Homo sapiens: one gene and its partners. The protein of the gene in region 1 interacts with the protein of each later gene in a pairwise test. Each region holds a gene or a part of one and is shown in the gene's direction. Other genes may lie near its edges.

Region 1 (7,033 bases):
AGAAAAGTGGTATAATTAGAAAAATAGACCCAGAGGTGGTTCACTGCAGCATTGAGGACAAATGAAAGGAGAGAGACCCATGAGGAAGTACTCTGATAGCAGAGTAGTATGGAAAAAGTGCTCTGAGAAATATCAAAGAATCTCACCTATTTATGGTTCGAGACTAGGATGGTGGTATGTTCCACCTTATCACGAAGTTAAGCAGATCTTTGAAACCTGGAACTGAATTTGACGGTAGCACTGTTGTAAGAATGACTGCAAACAGAATGCCCGTGATTGTAAAACATGGAATTCATCTACCACCAGGTATTCATGAGAGATCCTAACCCATACATGAAATGCAGGGAAAACCTTCACTTACCAAAGGAAAAATGTCTCAATTTTTTTTACTTCTTCCCAACCCATAAAGAATATTTTGCTTCCTGTGAAACAATGATAATGGCAAATATGATTGAAATGTAATCTGAGAACATTTCTTATTTAAAATGTATCTTTATTCTTTTAGGCCTCTTTTTCGTGGAAGTTCAGATGTTGATCAACTAGGAAAAATCTTGGAGTAAGTAATAATTATAATTTTACACCAGTGTCCATAGCATTAAAACATTTACAGTGACTTTCCTCTGACATGCATATCATGTGTTTATCTCTTGTCTTTCTTACTTCAAGCAGCTGCTGCAGACAGTGTTACTATTTGTGTGGTGAGTGGAGACATGGTAGAAGTGCCGTTTTATGCAGAGCCCTAACTGCTCTGCTCTGGAAGCTTGTATGTTGCTTGTGTGGATCTTTTTGCTGCTCCTCTTTCTTCGTGTGGCTGAGCTCCAGTTCTTTTAGTTCAAATACATTTTCTGCTTGTGGTCATTTCAAAAGCACCCACCATCAGAGATGGGATGCCTGGTGACCAAGTACCCATCCTTGTCCAGTGAGCTTCCTGTCCCCACTGAGTATCCTTGGTCACCCAGGTTGGTTCTGCGTTGTTTTGTTTTGTTTTCCTGGGCGAAGGATGGTATGCTACACATCTCATTTTTCTTTGGAGCACCAAAATAGAAAATGAGAACCCTAAGTCTTTGGCAAAATAACTCTGCAACTTTGAGAAAGTCATTTAAAACACCTCGTGAAGGGCTTACACAGTGCCTGGCACATAGTAAGCACTTTAAAAAGTTATCTATTACTGTTACTATTAGAGTTCATCATTAATTATTTAACCTTTTATTTCCTTAACTTCATCTGAGAAATGAAACTCTGACTTAAATTCTCTATAAGATCCTTTCTTGTGCTCAAATTCTTTGGTTTCAGTTACATCGCTCCTTGATGATTTACATAGTTTCATTCATGTCTGCATGTTCATGCATGTATGCATTCATGTTTCTAGAATGTAACTGGGGCACTTCTTCTGACAAAGCATGCAGTGTGGCATCCTTTTTTGGTTTTTTGTGTTTGAAAGGCCCATCCAAATTGGAGTGGAGTAGGAAAAAAGTGGGAGTTCTAGACCAAAAATAGCCCTGATCTTTGGTCTGTGACATTTTATAGGAATCCCAGTGATTTTTATGAAATTCGAAGTCTGTAAGACTGAAAAAAAAAAAAAAACCACCCCTAAAGAACAGATTTTCATATCAGCACTGTCTACTCAAGCGTGACTGCTTAAAACAGTTAATAAAACTGGAACCTGATTTTGTTCTTTTAGTGACTAGAAGCAGCTAGACTTCTGTTAATGCCAGTGCTACTGCTGAGTCAGAACATAGTAGCTTTAAGGCCTGAATAACATTTGCTAGTTTTTTATGCCTGGGGGCTTCCTGGGTCCAGGGCAGGTGATGCTACTGCTCCTACTACTGACCACTCTGTACAGTGGATAAATTCAACACAAAGCCTTCATGTTACCCCTGCTTCTGAATGGCAAGTTATTTAATCACTCGATGAACTCCCATCTATTTTTCCCCATGACTGTTGAATATATTTTGTGTGCATGTGATCATAAAGAGGAAACTAGGGAAAGCAGACATACTGATGACCTTCTGTTAAAAGGAAAGAGAATCTTGACTAAAGTCAGCTTGCCAGGACTTGAAAGCCATCACCTTCTTTCCCTTATTTATACTACCTGACAGTTGTGTCTACCTCCAGCACTGATGTCTGCAATCTTGTTAACATTGTTAGTGCCCCCTTAGTACATGAGGCCAGTGAAATGGACCAGAAGGAACATTTGACCGGCATGTTTGACCTGCTTCCAAAGAAAAGCCAGTTCTGCTTTTGGCAAAGTCCTGACAATCGTAGGTTGCCAACAGCAAAGAAGCTGTAGAGTTCTATGGTTTGTGCCTTTAGATTTTACTTTGTGGTTTCTGGCATTGTGTCATCAAAATTATGTTCTGTTTCCTCTGAATGCATTACCTTGCCAGAGAAAAGGGACAATGCTGCACCCTAGCGTCACTGCTGAAGTACTTGAAAAAATATTTCTGTCTCCTCCATCACTGCCATTTATAGATTTTGTGCCCTGTTGGGCTTGCCAATATAAATGTCAACTTTTAAGGCTTATATTCAGCAGTCCAAATAGTGGAATTAAGTGCAAGCATTTTTAATGGACCTATCAGAATTTCACAACACATATTTGGGCCATAAAAGTTCATTCTGGACATGAAACCAAATTTTTTTTAAGGAAAGCCATATTCACATACTCTTTTTTATTTTTTTCTTTGGAGACAAGGTCTTGCCCTGTTGTCCAGGCTGGAGTACAGTGGTGCGATCTTGGCTCACTGAAGCCTTGGCCTTCCGAGCTCAAGTAATCCTCCTATCTAAGCCTCCCAAGTAGCTGGGACTACAGGCACAGGGCACCACAACCAGCTAATTTTTATATTTTTTATAGAGATGGAGTTTCACCATGTTGCCCAGGCTGGTCTTGAACTCCTGGGGTCAAGTGGTCCACTTGCCTCGGCCTTCCAAACTGCTGGGATTACAGCCACCCCACCTGGTCCATGTTCACATACTCTTAAAGGGAAAAACATTTCTGTGTTTAGGAAGATTTAAGCCTTCAAGTAATAGCAAGTATTAAAAGTGAAACAATAGTTTTAGCCTGTGACATCTTAGAGCATTTTTAAGAATGATGTCATAGCTAAATGGAAATAAAATATTGGAATAGAGAGAACGGAACTCACTCTGGACTCTGTGACTGAGCTTGCTATCTGTGACTTTGGCAGTTCATTTTATTCCTCATTCTCAATTTCCCCATCTATAAAATGAGACTAATAACACCTGACTTACATGTCTTAGGAAATTATTACAGGAATCAGAGGAGGTGATAGACTTAAAGTTTTATATATATAGTTATGTGTTTGTTTAAAATTTTATATAAAATTATATAAAGTTATTTGTATATGTACACACATACAAACAGAGATGTGCTGTTCCTCTGAAGGCTTTTGGCATTCAGTTGATCATATACTTGCAAGATGTAATTAGATGTAGATACATTCAAAGCCACAAATAAAAAAGATTTTAAATATTTCTAGGAGTTATTAATATAATCAATTTCTAGCTGACTGGTGAATATACACAAAAATATTGATACACATAGACCTGACAACTAAAAAGGAATGAAAGGAAATTTTTAAAGCTCTCTAACAAGCATTTTTCATTCCCTCCTCTGCCCTGTCCCATTGTATCCAGACACTTACACGTGCATTTCTTTTCATAATTAATAGTGGTATTTTTGGTTTTTTTCTTTTTACTTCTATTGTAGGCTGTACTATTGAACAAATCTATATATTGCTCATTGTCATTTCTATTTATTGCTTCTAGTAAATATGTCCATGAATCTGTCTTTGCCTCAATAATGTAGCTCTCTCAGTATGCCTGATAGAGGCCGAATTACAGTGTCTTCCCCAGACACCCAGGCAGAGAAGCCATGATGACAGGGTTATCTTCCCAGCTGAAGTCTATGGCCTGGGCTCCGTGTAGGTGAGGGAAGGGGAAATGAAGTGCTACAGATCTTGAGACCTGTACCACATCTTCCTGAAATCTGGAAGTACATTCATAAGAACACCTCTTCCTGGGCCTTAGTCCCAACAAGTAGAGGCCAAGCAGAAGACCCTAATGTGGGCCAGCACAATTTCTAACTGTAGTTAAAATTATTTGTTCCAGTATTTGAATAGCTATGTACCCCGTCCACTAAACTATGATTTTATTTTTGGTTCAGAGTTATACAGTCTGTGTGAGAAAGAAGTCCCTGCATCCTCTGATTTTCTCTGTTCAAACCTACTTACGACCTATATGTAAACTATAAATAATATCTATACAATGTATAAGTTATGTAAGTCCATTGACCCATTAATTTTTTAAAGAATCTTAAGTTATACATAGATACAAGCAGTTCATATTTTAAGTGTGGTAGTGATGTATTTCCTATGCATCTTGTATTAATAACATTTTCTAATTATAATAATAGTAGGCAGTGTATTGATTGATAATTGACTGTGTGTGATGTATATCAGGTGCTGTGCTTTGTACTTTAAATTATAAATTTATATATTACTATAAATTCAAATAAAGTATAACTGATCCTCATTACAACTGTAAGTTATTATCATTGTATACATAAAGACACTAAGGGTCATAGATGTTAAGTAATTTGTCCTTACCTGCCAGTAAGTGGCAGGTGCAGGATTTGAACCCAAATCTGCCTATTTCCGAAGCCTGTGCTTATCACTTGCTGTTCTTTCCACATTTCTGATCCCAGAATGGTTTTCAGGGGAAATATAAATAATAGTCTTTTAATTTACTGTTTGCTCACTTTGGAATACCACAGACTTCCTTTTATAAAATCATGTTTGTATAATGCAGGACTAGCACGTTTTAGCCTCATTTTTCCTTCTGATTCTAATGTATATATTTAATATGTAGGGAATTGCTCTTTAACCAAAAATGCAACCAAATTGATATGTTAATAAACCATGTTGGATGAGCATCATAAAATCATGTCAATACTGGGGTGTTCGATCAAAACACAAAAAGCATTCTTGGACATAAAGGAAGATATGTACCAGTATGGGTCTCCTCTGAATACAATAAGTCCTGCTTTGTCACTAAGTCAGAGCTTACTGCCTGGTAATATATTTTCTATTTCTACATCATCCCTTACATTTAGTGTCTGCTACCAGAGCAATCTCTTATCTCCTCCCACTGAATTTTACAATTCTTCTGTGAGATTACCCTCTCCCCCATGGCCACCATATTGCAGTAGGACAGAGATAAACAGAGACCCTGCCAGTGATAAAGTGAAGGTCTCCTGGGACTCTGCCCCCCATGTCTCCCCCTTAGATTTTGCCTTTCTCTGGAAATTGATGAGAAAACAGCTTCTGCATAGTAGCTAATGCTTATGTCCATGTGTGGTTCTTTTGTAGCGTGATTGGACTCCCAGGAGAAGAAGACTGGCCTAGAGATGTTGCCCTTCCCAGGCAGGCTTTTCATTCAAAATCTGCCCAACCAATTGAGAAGTTTGTAACAGATATCGATGAACTAGGCAAAGACCTACTTCTGGTAAGTTTTTCTGATGTCAAGCTCGTCTGCACTGTGCCAGTGAGACACCTGCTCTACCCAGACTGGGTGGTGGGCACAAATATCAGTTCAGTAGCTGCTATAGGCATCACATGCCACAGCCACATGGAGCAGGAGGCAACAGTCCCTCCAGAGGTTTCATTTTCACACTTGTAGCAGCTGGTGGCTTTTGATTCTGGAATGTCTTTCTGATCCACATTTTTTTAAATCTGCCATCTTTGAATGTTTATTTCAATGCAGGTTTAGAAGCCTCTCGATTCACTTTGACATATGTTTCTTTAGAAGTAAATATTATGTTTCCTTTCTTACAGTTTCATGCTACTTTAAGTAATTTGTTTGTCATTTTAACGTGCCTTTTCTTAAACATTCACAACTTTGGGGAGATGTTTTTCCAAAAGAACTATATAGCAATACTTCTTCTAGTTGCTGATTTATTTAATAAGTATTTAGTGTGCCAGGGACATATAAAATACCTCACTGAAAATAAGGACTTCTGTGCTCTGAGACTCTTAATGCTCAACCATATACATAATTTCCTATACTTGGAGGCCAGAACAATAGGTAGAAAAGTGTACCTGTTGGGCTGTTCTTGATGTCTGAAACCCAGTGAGTAATGAGTGTCTGCTTTACCTCCTGAATTAACAGCCTTTGATATCTGCTTCTGCCCGTGGGTGAAGCACAGGTCTTCTCCATGTGTCTCATGCTGGGGCCCATGCCAGAGAGGCAGCAGCTCCCTGGGGCATGTTTTTCTCATGATAGAAGGTATCGATGCTCCAGAAGGGCAAGCAGAAATATGCAATGCCCCTGAAGGTCCATACTTGGAAGAAGTACCCGCCACTCTGCCCATGTTCCATTGGCCAAAGCAAGTTCCATGCCTAAGGCCAACTTGAATGGAGGAAAGAATGCTCCCCCTATGGTGAGAGGGGAGAGAAAAGAGGGAATATGTACTAAAAGTTATCCAATCTACCATAGTATCCAACTCTTGACTAAGTTGTGATTCCAAAAGCTCATTTTATAAGTAAACTATTTGGCAATTAAACTAAATTTTCTTGCAGAAACAATATTATTAACACAAAGTTTTTTAATTAACCCTCAACCTGGCAACCTTGTTCCTGAAGTAGAGCAATAATAGAACTTAAACACCTTTTTTTTAACCATATTTCTATAGGACAAAATGTATTAAGACTTCCAACGTGAGATTCTCCCACACCCCCACATTTGGCTAAGGTGTTCTCCTTCTCTCCACCCTCTTCCCAGCTTTAAGCCATCAGTGTAGCTGTGAGGAAAGGGCTTCCTCTCACATAATCCTCTAGAGACATGTCTCTGTATTGTGAATGTATTCCCACAGCTCTTTTCTCTTCTTTCCTATGTCCTGGAGATTAAATGCCACTACCTAATTTTCTCCTTCTTGGGCTCTGGGAAAAGAGAACTCAGGCTCAGGAATTTTGCCCCTGCTTTCCGGTCCTTTGGGAATTCAGCCCTTGCAAAGCTTTTC
Region 2 (6,681 bases), on another chromosome or scaffold:
AGTCAGGTAGCATGATGCCTCCAGCTTCATTCTTTTTGCTTAAGATTGTATTGGCTATGTGGGCTCTTTATTGGTTCCATATGAAATATAAAGTAGTTTTTTCTAATTCTGTGAAGAAAGTCAATGGTAGCTTGATAGGGATAACACTGAATCTATAAATTACTTTGGGCAGTATGGCCATTTTCACAATATTGATTCTTCCTATCCATGAGCATGGAATGTTTTTCCATTTGTCTGTGTTCTCTCTGATTTCCTTGAGCAGTGGTTTGTAGTTCTCCTTGAAGAGGTCCTTCACATCTGTGGGCACTAAGTCCTTTTCTCTCCCTCTCTATTCAACTGGAAATTTATCTTTCAAGGCACATTGTAAATGTTTTCTGCTTTCCAAACCTTCCCTTAGGCCTACAGGCAGAGCTGACCTCTGTGTTCCCATCTCACTGTGTGTACCCCTGGACTATTGCATTTATCTATCTGTATTTTAATCACTTGACATTGACTTCTTCCTGAGATGGTGGTCTCTTTAGGGCAAGGACTGGGCCTTTTCCACCTTTGAACCCCTCAGCACTCAACAGTGTGCCCAGGATGTGATAGTTAATAATTGTGAGTTGAATTATTAATTCAGTCACCTCTATCCACCCATTCTTCTCCCCACAGGATCGTCTCAGGAGTCGACTGGAAGCTCTGAGCACGGAGAGAGATGAGATTGAGGATGTAAAGTGTCAAGAAGACCAGAAGCTTCAAGTGCTGCTGGTACAGGCCACGTCACTGGCTACCTTTTCCTTTGAAGGTTTTCTTAAGAGACTCTGGGGAAACCCGTTGGCTGGTATCTGTTTCCTGGCTGAAAAGAACTGACAAACTGTTCTCGTTCACCTTCCTGTGGCTGCACAAAGGCATTTGGGATCTCAGACCATGAGCACTAGAAGTGGTTCTGATGTCTTGCAATCCAAGATCCATCTTGTATATCACATTTTACAGAGCAGAAAACTTAGGACCAGAAAAGCAATGCTCCCAAGGCCACATAGCAAAGCTGAAGTTCATGAGGAACCTGGATTTCTTGACCCTTAATTCATTGTTCTTTCCATCCTAGTCTGTTTGCCTGAACACACCACCTTCAGATGGGAAGCTTGGGGTCAAAAACATATGTTAGTGTCGGGATTCTAGTCCTGACTACAGGCTGACCTTGAGGAGAGTAGGCTGATGGTGTGGCTACATCTGGATCCCTCACGCCTCTCTTTTCATGCTATAAAGTTATGGAGGAATCACAGTGTGAGGATTTCTGGTACCTTGACCAAGGAGAGAGTGTGGGGACAAAGCAACCTATCCACCATCCCTCAGCTCTCATCAACGTATGCCCTGTAGTTGGTGATTTCCACGGCTAAAACCAAAATTACACACTCTCCCACTAAGTTGTGTTGACTCCAATCACAACTTCCTTTTGCCTCTAAGAAATTATTACAGTCTTCCCCACCTAACTCTAAGAAGGCATAGTAGGGTTATGATGGTATTGTAGTTGTGGAAATATTTTTGAAAAGTTCAACATCATTCTGAGAGCATAATGTAGCATTATTATTAGAGTATCTAGCTAAGACAGTAGCACAGCCCTCATCATTGGTAAGTTCATCCTGAGACCTAACTACTTCTAGGCATATTAGTAAATGGAATGAGTCTTGGACCAGTTGCTCCCTATCCCTGTTAATCAATAATAAGTATATAGATGATCATCCTGGAAGCTATCTCTGAGCCCCTTCCTAACCATGTCTGCCTTTTATCCCTTGAAGACTCAGATCGAAAGCAAGAAGCATCAGGTGGAAACAGCTTTTGAGAGGCTGCAGCAGGAGCTGGAGCAGCAGCGATGTCTCCTGCTGGCCAGGCTGAGGGAGCTGGAGCAGCAGATTTGGAAGGAGAGGGATGAATATATCACAAAGGTCTCTGAGGAAGTCACCCGGCTTGGAGCCCAGGTCAAGGAGCTGGAGGAGAAGTGTCAGCAGCCAGCAAGTGAGCTTCTACAAGTGAGAGACACTTCACCACTTTGTAGGATAAGAGAGGGACTCCACGGGGAAGGGGGTGGGCACCATGCTTTGGGCTGGAGAGAGGCAGGAAAGGGAAGTGGAGAGAGGTTAACGGGGTGCAGATCCAGAGGGGCTGGAGACTTGCCCAAGTCATACACTGTGGTCATGTTAAGGGGTTTAGGGTCAGACAGTCTTGGATTTGAATGTTGGCTCTTCCAATTGTGTGACTTGAGTGAGTCTCTTAGCCTCTCTAAACATGGGGACAGCAATAGCACCTCCCTCATAAAGTTATTGCAAAATTATAAGAAACAATCCATAAAAAATGCTTGGCATGATTCCTGATATACAGAAAGAACTCAATAACTGGTGTCTGCTATGGTTATGAATATGTGATCCTGGCTCACATCAGGTCCAGCTGATAACTGAAGGCAGGCCCCTGCTCTCTACCACCTCCTAATCATTGCAGACACAACCCACCCCCACGATAAGGCTGAAACAGGGAAACCAGCACAAATGAACTGACTACAGAAACCCAAATTAGTAAGAAAACATGATGTAAAAGAACAATCTAATGAGTAGGTAATTAAACAGGACAACTCTCTGCAGAAGGAGAGTTTTGAGTTCATATTTTAAGGGAAAAGTGATGTACAGAATCCCTGACAGGAAGGACTTATGGAAACTAAATGTATGTTCTTGTCTTTCTTTTGCAGGATGTCAGAGTCAACCAGAGCAGGTAGGGCCCACTCCCCGGTCCTGCCTCCTTTTACTCAACATCAAGACTGAATGGGAAGGGGCAGGGGCACTTACTGCCACCCACTTTGCCAGGAAAGCAAAGGCACTCTGGCAGACACACTGTCTCATTCAACTGTGCACAAACAGTCCAAACTCACTAAAGATTTGCGTTCTAAAGGTTCATTTTTAAATTGATTGGTTGGTATTGGGGACACATTTTTTCCCCTAGAAGTGAAGTTATAAATAATAATCATGTTTTTAGGTTGATCCAGGAACATTTATTTAATCTATGAAATTATTAGTACTTGAGTCAGTATCTAACACCATTTAAAATGTAATTTAAAGGGGGAATACTTTCTGTAGACTATGATAAGCATGGAAACCAGGAATACCAGCCTGTTCTTTCATTCATTCATTTTTTACACACATCTCTGGTTTCCTTCAGAATTTTCTAATGCTACTGTAAAAGGACAGCCACCAGGAGCCAGTGGCATTGTAAATGCATGGCCCTTTCCTTCCCTGTCTGCTATAAGCATTAGCAGTCTGCACTGAGATGAAGAGAGGTGTAGTGACTAGGGAACAATTGTCACGTGCTTTGTGCCTATTCCCGTGCAGGGAGGATAAACCCAGGGTCCATGAATCAGGAAGTGTCTCCAAACATGCTTTTCAAAGAGCATTAGAGGTTTAGATCTAGAAGGGCTTGGAGGTCTTCCAGTCTGAGGAAGAAACTGAGACCCAGGGGGTGAAGAGTCTTCAAGGTAATGCAGCAAGTGTCTAATGAGGACTGAGCTGGGACCAGAATCAGGAGTTTTTTTCATTGCAATATATATTTTCGTTGATCCTTTTTTTTTCTTCCCTTCTAGCCTCTTTTCCTTTACAAATAGCAGCATACACAAGGGTAGTTTAAGGCTGTTTTCAAATGGTACCCTGTTGCCCTCTAGAGACCAAAAGGGGTAATGATCTCTGTCCCTCAGCCCCTACAGAACCAAACATTCTCCTAAAGGGGCTTACCTCCAATTCTTGAGAAGTGATTATCCTTAGTTCCTCTTAGGTTTAACTGAAATGCCTACTATTTTAGTAACTACACATTTCCAGCAAAAGTAAAGAAATGATACTCAATTTCATTATTCACCACAGACGCCAAGATCATTCTTTAGTCTGATTTTAGCCTCACGTGGTCTCACCCGAACATTTGTTTTTGGAATTTGGACCTAACTGGTTACCAAACCTGTCTGCAGGTGTGAGATGAAGACTTTTGTGAGTCCTGAGGCCATTTCTCCTGACCTTGTCAAGAAGATCCGTGATTTCCACAGGAAAATACTCACCCTCCCAGAGATGATGAGGATGTTCTCAGGTAAAGGGGAAGGCGCCACAGTTTTCCCCAGTCCCATTAGCTGCCCTCCTGTCTTCCACCCATCTCCATCCTTCTCTGCCCTTGAAACCTGGCTCGAGACATCTTCCCTCCCCAGAGCCTTCCCTTAGTGATCTCAATTTATTCAGGGGCACTATTCCCAGAGCATCTCCTCCACTCCCTAAGGACAGGTGCAGGACTGAGAGTCCAGGAGGGTGAGGACCCTTCTCCTCCACTAGACCACAGCAGAAGCCGAGTCTTCTGTCCTCATCTTCACATTGTACTCAAGTCACCTTGCCCCTGGGGGTGCCTATAAGAAGTAATAAGTCACAGATCTCTCTTTCTATTTCTGCTTCCCTCAGAAAACTTGGCGCATCATCTGGAAATAGATTCAGGTAAACAGCTTGGGATTTGGGGAGTCATTCTTCCATTCATCCATTCAATCCATGGCAGCAAACAGAGCAATAAAATGCATGAATTCTGGAGCTTGATTGCTTGAGTTCTCGATTCCAGTTCTTGCTAGCTCTGAGACACTGGGCAAGTTATTAAGCCTCTGTCCCACAATATTTTCTTCATCAGTAAAATGAAAATAAAAGTACTGTACCTGTCCCATAAGTAGCTGTGAGGACAAAATAAATTAATACATGCAAAGAGCTTAGTATATTACCTGACTCATAGTAAGTGCTCAATTAATGTCATCTACTTGTGTAGATATTACTCGTTGAAAAATACTTATCAAGCCCTAGTTTTTTGAGAGCATTGTGCTGGGCTCTCTACTGATTTGAACAAAAAATGTGCAATTTTTTAAAAATCACATTTATTTTTAAATTGGTGCTTAATTTAGAAGTTGTTTCCATAAGCATCACCTCACTCACTCTGGTATAGGTAAGTGCTTTTCAAACTTAATATGCAGAAACGTCTCCTAGGGATCCTGTTAAAATGCAGATTCTGATTTAGTAGGGTGGGATGGGGCCCAATATTCTGCATTTCTAACAAACACCCAGGTGGTGGGGATGCTGCTGGTCCCTCCCGCTGCACTTTGAGAAGCAAATCCTTAACAGCACCACTTGCTGATTAGGTAGAAGGGCGGTTCAGAGAAGTGGCCCAATGGCAGGCTGCCCAAGTCCAGTACTCCTTCTGCCTCCCACGTGCGTTGCCTGCTCTAGGAACATCTGTGGTTGCCGCCCGCTGTTGATGTCTGCGCGCTCCTCCCTCTAGGGGTCATCACTCTGGACCCTCAGACCGCCAGCCGGAGCCTGGTTCTCTCGGAAGACAGGAAGTCAGTGAGGTACACCCGGCAGAAGAAGAGCCTGCCAGACAGCCCCCTGCGCTTCGACGGCCTCCCGGCGGTTCTGGGCTTCCCGGGCTTCTCCTCCGGGCGCCACCGCTGGCAGGTTGACCTGCAGCTGGGCGACGGCGGCGGCTGCACGGTGGGGGTGGCCGGGGAGGGGGTGAGGAGGAAGGGAGAGATGGGACTCAGCGCCGAGGACGGCGTCTGGGCCGTGATCATCTCGCACCAGCAGTGCTGGGCCAGCACCTCCCCGGGCACCGACCTGCCGCTGAGCGAGATCCCGCGCGGCGTGAGAGTCGCCCTGGACTACGAGGCGGGGCAGGTGACCCTCCACAACGCCCAGACCCAGGAGCCCATCTTCACCTTCACTGCCTCTTTCTCCGGCAAAGTCTTCCCTTTCTTTGCCGTCTGGAAAAAAGGTTCCTGCCTTACGCTGAAAGGCTGAAGTGGGGCGCGCGAAGGGCGGCGAAGCGGAGACGGCGGCTCTCCGGGATCCAGCTCCGCCCCTGGCCAGTGTGCGGCCCGGGGGCTCCCTGTGCCCGCGTGAGGCGAGAGAACAGGGGACTTGAGTCTCGAACAGCGGTTGTTTTTACTTTATTTATCTTAGGCCCTCAGCTCCCTGACGTCCTGAGCCTCCCTGTGACGCTCTGGCCTTCTCTGTACCTCAGAGTGCAGAACCACAGACGGCTTCGGCTGTGCCTAGGGCAACAGCCAACCTAGGAGCCAGCGGGCTTTCGGGGAAAAAAAAGAAAAAGACATCTAAAATAAAATGTTTAAACTGTTTCAAAATAATTATCTTGGGAAAAATCAGGGTTTTGCTGGACTTGCACTAATTTGTACAGTTAACTTCGTACTTTGACACACACCTGAAGATGCCTCCACCTTTGTAGGGCTTAGGGCCTTTTTATCAGCCCTGGGTGGACCCCAGGGCCCCTTCCTTTCCCTTCCCTTCTGGTCATTTCTCTGGACTTGTAGAGAATGTCCTAAGAAAGTGTGACTCACAGACCTCTGGATTCCATGTGTCCAATTAGCGCTGATGGGACTGGAGAAAGGCTTAAATCCAATGGGATCTGCCTGTGTTGGCAATTTAGGGCCGAGATGGCTCGAGGGAGTAGATGCAGAGAGGAAGGGTGATGATCCCTCTGTGACCAAGACACAATCCTGTCCCTTCTTTTAGTCAGGATATCCCTGATGACAGACAGTGGGACAATCACCAGGCCCCATTGTTTAAGAAAACGAGGCTTTTGCTCAGGTCTAACTAACCTCTCAAATATTTGTTATTACTGCAGTTATTATTTGGA
Region 3 (5,368 bases), on another chromosome or scaffold:
AAACCTGCACATGTACCATCTAAAAGTAAAAAGAAGCAAATTTAAAAAAAAAAAAACAAAAAAACAGACCCCTCCCCACCAGTCTCCTGGTTCTTTTTGAAGGTGGCTGTGGTCAGACTATTCCAGCAGGTTCCTCAGTGCTTCATGCTGTTCATCAAACCTGGATCCATCTGGACCTACCATTTATGTCATTTATTGTTATAAAAAATAATACATATTCTCTTGACACCTTATAATTAGAGTTCATTTAAGTCCTTTTTATCAACTCCATTAGAGTACTTGTCTGGTGTCGAGAGTTTTGGTAGTTCCAGTATATGTGCTTGTTTTGTTTCTTCCACTGGATCTCAAGAAGGAACAAATTATTTTGGTGTCTTATAGAACAAATTCAGATTGTACTAGATTAGAAGGAATTTATTTTGATGTTATTTTGGAGAAAAGACTTACTTGGGACTTGGGTGGAAGTGGAGTTCATATGGATGGTTTTGTTTTGAATAATTTCTAAGGTCTTTTAGCTCTATCATTTCTTGTCAGTCTCCCACCGCTAAAATATAACTCTATTTACTTCGTTTTTTCACACAGAAAGATTATAGTGACATAGTCTTCCTCTTACTTAAATACATGTCTTTTTAGGATTCTGCCATAGTATTGATTCTGCCATGGCATTTATTATGCCCAGTGACCAAGGCATTAGAATATTTGTGGTACCTTTACCTTTTTAGGCCAATAAATATCATTCATTTGCTAAAGAACATTTCATTAAACGAGGTACAGTTGGCTCTCCATATCCATGGGTTTGGCATCTGGATTCAACCAACCGTGAATTGAAAATATTCAGGAAGAAATTTCACAGAGTTCCAAAAAAACCTGGAATTTGTGGCATGCTGAGTACTACATTGAATCTACACAGATGAAGTGATGTGTAGGCATTCTGTTAGGTATTATAAGTAATCTAGGGATGATTTAAAGTATACAGGACAATGCGAGTGGGTTATATGCAAATACTACATTATTTTATATAAGAGACTTGAGCATGTTGGGTTTTGTTATCTTTTGGGGGATCCTAGAACTAATCCCCCATGGATACTGTGGGATGACTGTACTTATTTTTTAGAAATAATTTCTACACTATAGCCCCTTTTTTACTCCCAGTTTCTTTCATTTTTTTTTTTTTAGGCTTCCTAAAATATTGGCAGAAGCTCCATCCTTTCTCTGTGCTTTGTTCCAATGTTTTTAGCATGTTTCAGCTTGTTCTACATCCCTGGGATATATAATAAGACCTAGCCTAAATGTAAGCTTGATAGTTCAGGGACTATCTTAAGTGTTATGTTAACTTTTTTTCTTTTAAGGGAGGGAGAACAAATTCTAATACTAGTTAATAGTGTCTTACCCACAGTGTGTTATCTAATGCCTTTCAAACTAGGGGAAAAAAATCAGTGAACATTATGGTAGATGCTAAAATCTGCCATTTTCTTGTATATTTCTGACAGTTTCAGTTACTTTGCATTTGTATTATACAATGACTAACATCAGCCTTTTACCATTCTTTCCTCTGGTATTTTTCAGTAACAAATAGTGAATGTATTTAGAGATAAAAATAATTTTGTGACCAAATGTGTTCTTGTAGAGTGCGTTATTTTCCCCTATTTTCTCTGTGGTATTGCAAACAGTCATGGTGAGTGCTGCAGGTTATATGAGGATAAGTAAGACTTGGTACAGAAATGTCCAGAATACTCAAAACTGGAAAAAAGTGATCCCTGATAGTTAAATGGTCAAGATAGGCTTCCTGAAGGTGATGGTGTTTAGCCAGTCCTGGAAGGAATGCGCAATACAATTTCAACAGGTAGAAATAAGATGATTAAGGGTAAAATAAGAAAGGGGAAGATTAGTGCATCATATAGAGCAGGACTGTTGAGCAAGAGTGTAGACCACAAGTTGAGGGTATGCTAGGAAATAAGGCTAGAAAAGAAGGTTGAGATCAGATTATGGAGATTCTTATTAATACTAAACTAAGCAGTTTAGCTTATTTCTGGTAGGCATTGGGGTGCCGCTGGAGAGAGCAGGGAAGGAATATATGATGCTAACTAAGGTTATTTTGACAATGCTGTAATTGAAAGTGAGGAAGAGAGACACTTTACTACAGGTAATAATTTAAAGGCCTTCCATGTACAGTCATTGTGCCAGAAACTTAGGGATAAAAAGATGAATATAATACAATGCCACACCTTTGGTCTTGTAGTCTATAATGGAAAGGCTAAATGGTTAAATAGATTATTATACTGAAATGTGGTAAATACGTTGAAAGGTTTTAGTGTCTTTTTTTTTTTTTTTTAAGACAGAGTCTTGCTCTGTCTGTTGGCCTGGCTGGAATGCAGTGGTTTGATCTCACCTCACTGCAACCTCCACCTCCTGGGCTCAAGCTATTCTCATGCCTCAGCCTCCTGAGTAGCTGGGATTACAGGCATCTGCCACCATGTCCTGCTAATGTTTTGTATTTTTAGTAGAGAAGGGGTTTCGCCATGTTGGCCAGGCTGGTCTGAACTTCTGGCTTCAAGCGATCCACCTGCCTTGGCCTCCCAAAGTGCTAGGATTACAGGCATGAGCCACCACGCCTGGCCATAAATATGTTAAAAGGTTGATATAGAAACAGATGACCGTGGCATTTAGAGTTTTGGGGTGTTGAGGGAGTCAGGGGTAACTCCAGAAAGGATTGATATCTGTGAATTGTCCTGAAGGGTAAGAAGGAATCAGCAAAACTCCCAAATTAAAAACTTTACCAAAAACATTTCATCTTAGTGCTAAGTCTACTATTTTCTACAAAATACATATTTCTAAATTTTTCATTTACTATTTTAAAATTCTTAGCTTCCCTCCTCATCCCTGATTAAAAAAAATTTTTTTTTTGCCCTTTGGCTTCTTACATTTTTAATGAATGTGTTTATGAGTACTTTGGACTCCACTGAAAAAAATTAGAAGAGGCCAAGAGAGTAGGATGAAGGGCCTTCCAGACAGGGGGAATAGACTGAAAAAAAAAAAAAAAAAAAAAAAAAACAGACGTTGGATACAAAAAAGTAGTTTCTGTTCTCATGTAAATGTTCAGCATACATTGCAAATACAAAACTCAAGTTCCAAAGATAATTATATTAGAAATACAGATTTGGACCTAATTTCTAAGATGATGTTGATGGATGGGTAGCTGGATAAATAAATGAGTTGGAGGTAGATGTGGGGAGAGAAAAGACTCAGCGGGGACGGAAAGCACAGGGAGGAAAAATGGCCACCAGAGATAACAGAGCAGCCTATGTTAATTAATGATCAACTGTGTGTGGCTTTTTTTTTTTCCTGGCCCAGATGGATAGCTCCCAGTTGATCCATTGTCGGGAGCTTGTGGCACATCACCTTTCTACTCTGCAGTCTTCCCTGCCTCTGAATTCCGTTTATGTCTACCGTCCCCTCAAGCACACCCTGGTGACCTGTGACAAAGGAGTGTTCAGATTACATCCCTCCTCTGTCCCAGGCCCAGACTTCTCCAAGGACAACAGCAAGCCAGAAGTGCCAGTCAGAGGTACAGCAGCCTTTTACCATCATCTCCCAGCTGCCAGTGGGTGCAAGCAGACCTCTACTAAACGCAAAGTAGAGGAAATGGAAGTGGATGACTTCTATGATGGAATCAAACGGCTCTATAATGAAGATAATGTCTCAGAAAATGTGGGTTCTGTGTGTGGCACTGATTTATCAAGACAAGAGGGACATGCTTCCCCTTGTCCACCTTTGCAGCCTGTTTCTGTCATGTAGTTTCAACAAGTGCTACCTTTGAGTGTAAACTAAGGTAGACTACTTTGGGAATGAGAACATGCAAAATCAGGAAAGGCTGTAGAAGGAAATATACCTTAACAGGCTGATTTGGAGTGAGCCAGAAAAAAAAAATAAAACTCTCATTATTTGTGTGGCTAATTATAATTCAGCGTTATTTAAGCACATAAAGACCAAAAAAAAAAAAAAGAAATCCAAAAGATCCAAACTTTTTTTAAACTTAAAAAATCTCTTTGTAGTATGTCAGTTGCACTTTTTTTCTGCCATAATGTAACGTAGCTTGCCCCGTCAAAAATTCAATTAAAATTCATGGCCAGCAATCCTGTTCCCCCTCAGCATCCTGATTTAATTTTCCTGTTGCTTTTGCTTGCTTCTCCATTTAATAGTTACTGAACTTTATGCATGTTGATCTATATTGATTTTCACTGCAGTTGAATGAACAAATTATTTCAGTGTGACAGCCATGACTCAAGTTCCAATTAGTCTGAAAAGGGTACTTTGGAATTGTCCCATATTAATCAGAGATGGCAAAAGAAAAAGTTCTCATATTACCAGGTTGATTTTGTGTCTCATTTCAAATTTTAATTTAAAATTATGGTTTTCATTTTTGTTTACCTTAAAGTGATGCTTAAAAGTGGCATGTAATTAGGACACTTAGGTTTGTTGAAAGCATTTTCGACATTTGTATAAAAGAATTTGTGATAAATATATCCAGGTGCTCACCAAAGAAACATGTATTAACAACTTAAATTAGATTTTTCTAACTGATAGTTTTCACTCATTTATAATCAGTAGGAGAGACTGTCTAGATGTTGGGGCAGCTCTATGATTTAAGTCTGTAACATGTTATAACTGAATTTAGTACCCTAGTTTTGTTAAGCTATTAGGATTTTCTAATAGAACTTACTCCCCCTGCCTCCCCAGCCTTATGTTTCTTTTAATGACTTCTGGATCCTGAGCTCCCTTTGCAGTCTGAAAAAGGTATTGCAGTCAGAACTGTGTACTGATGATAAAAGCCTCTGGTAGCAATAAAAAGTTGTCCTTAACTTTTGTTTTTGTGACTTTTTTCTGGTTGTGAAGAGGTACAGGTTCCTGATTGGCTAGGCACTGCTATTTCAACTAGAGAAAACAATAGAAAGACCAAGAATACACTTACTGAAAATAAAACATGAAGAGGATCTGAATGTGATCGAGGGATATAGGTTTTAGACATAAGAATTTTTCTTTCGTGATATTTTTTCACTGGTGCACTGTGAATCCTCCAAATAGTAAATTTACATCTTAATGTGACTGCTTGTGAGAGTAGGCTCAGACCCCTATCTTTAAAATGTCATTTTTAGCCATTTTGTAATGTTCAGATTTAGCAGAACAAGAGTATTTTCAGGTCATCATCTGATTTGTAAAAAATTCTTGTGGTAGGGTTGACTTACCTGTTTTATGACCTTAAAATCCAATTAAATGGGAAGCATTTACTCACATGTCAGTAAAGGGAGTGGGAGGGAAGATAGCAAAGGATTGGCTTCACAGATAGACATTTTAAAAATTTCTCATCCTGATC

The links.
Region 2: the proteins of CDK6 (region 1) and TRIM15 interact in binary tests that used the Homo sapiens proteins (3 or more experiments, as listed by UniProt).
Region 3: the proteins of CDK6 (region 1) and CCNI interact in binary tests that used the Homo sapiens proteins (3 or more experiments, as listed by UniProt).

Annotation. Positions count from the first base shown.
Region 1 is NC_000007.14:92,616,559-92,623,591, reverse strand, and holds part of CDK6 (cyclin-dependent kinase 6), read left to right. Parts: intron 1-505; coding exon 506-556; intron 557-5,384; coding exon 5,385-5,520; intron 5,521-7,033. UniProt on the Homo sapiens protein: Serine/threonine-protein kinase involved in the control of the cell cycle and differentiation; promotes G1/S transition. Phosphorylates pRB/RB1 and NPM1.
Region 2 is NC_000006.12:30,166,525-30,173,205, forward strand, and holds the end of TRIM15 (E3 ubiquitin-protein ligase TRIM15), read left to right. Parts: intron 1-651; coding exon 652-747; intron 748-1,775; coding exon 1,776-2,006; intron 2,007-2,716; coding exon 2,717-2,739; intron 2,740-3,976; coding exon 3,977-4,092; intron 4,093-4,451; coding exon 4,452-4,484; intron 4,485-5,307; coding exon 5,308-5,825; 3' UTR 5,826-6,169; downstream 6,170-6,681.
Region 3 is NC_000004.12:77,046,643-77,052,010, reverse strand, and holds the end of CCNI (cyclin-I), read left to right. Parts: intron 1-3,348; coding exon 3,349-3,792; 3' UTR 3,793-4,856; downstream 4,857-5,368.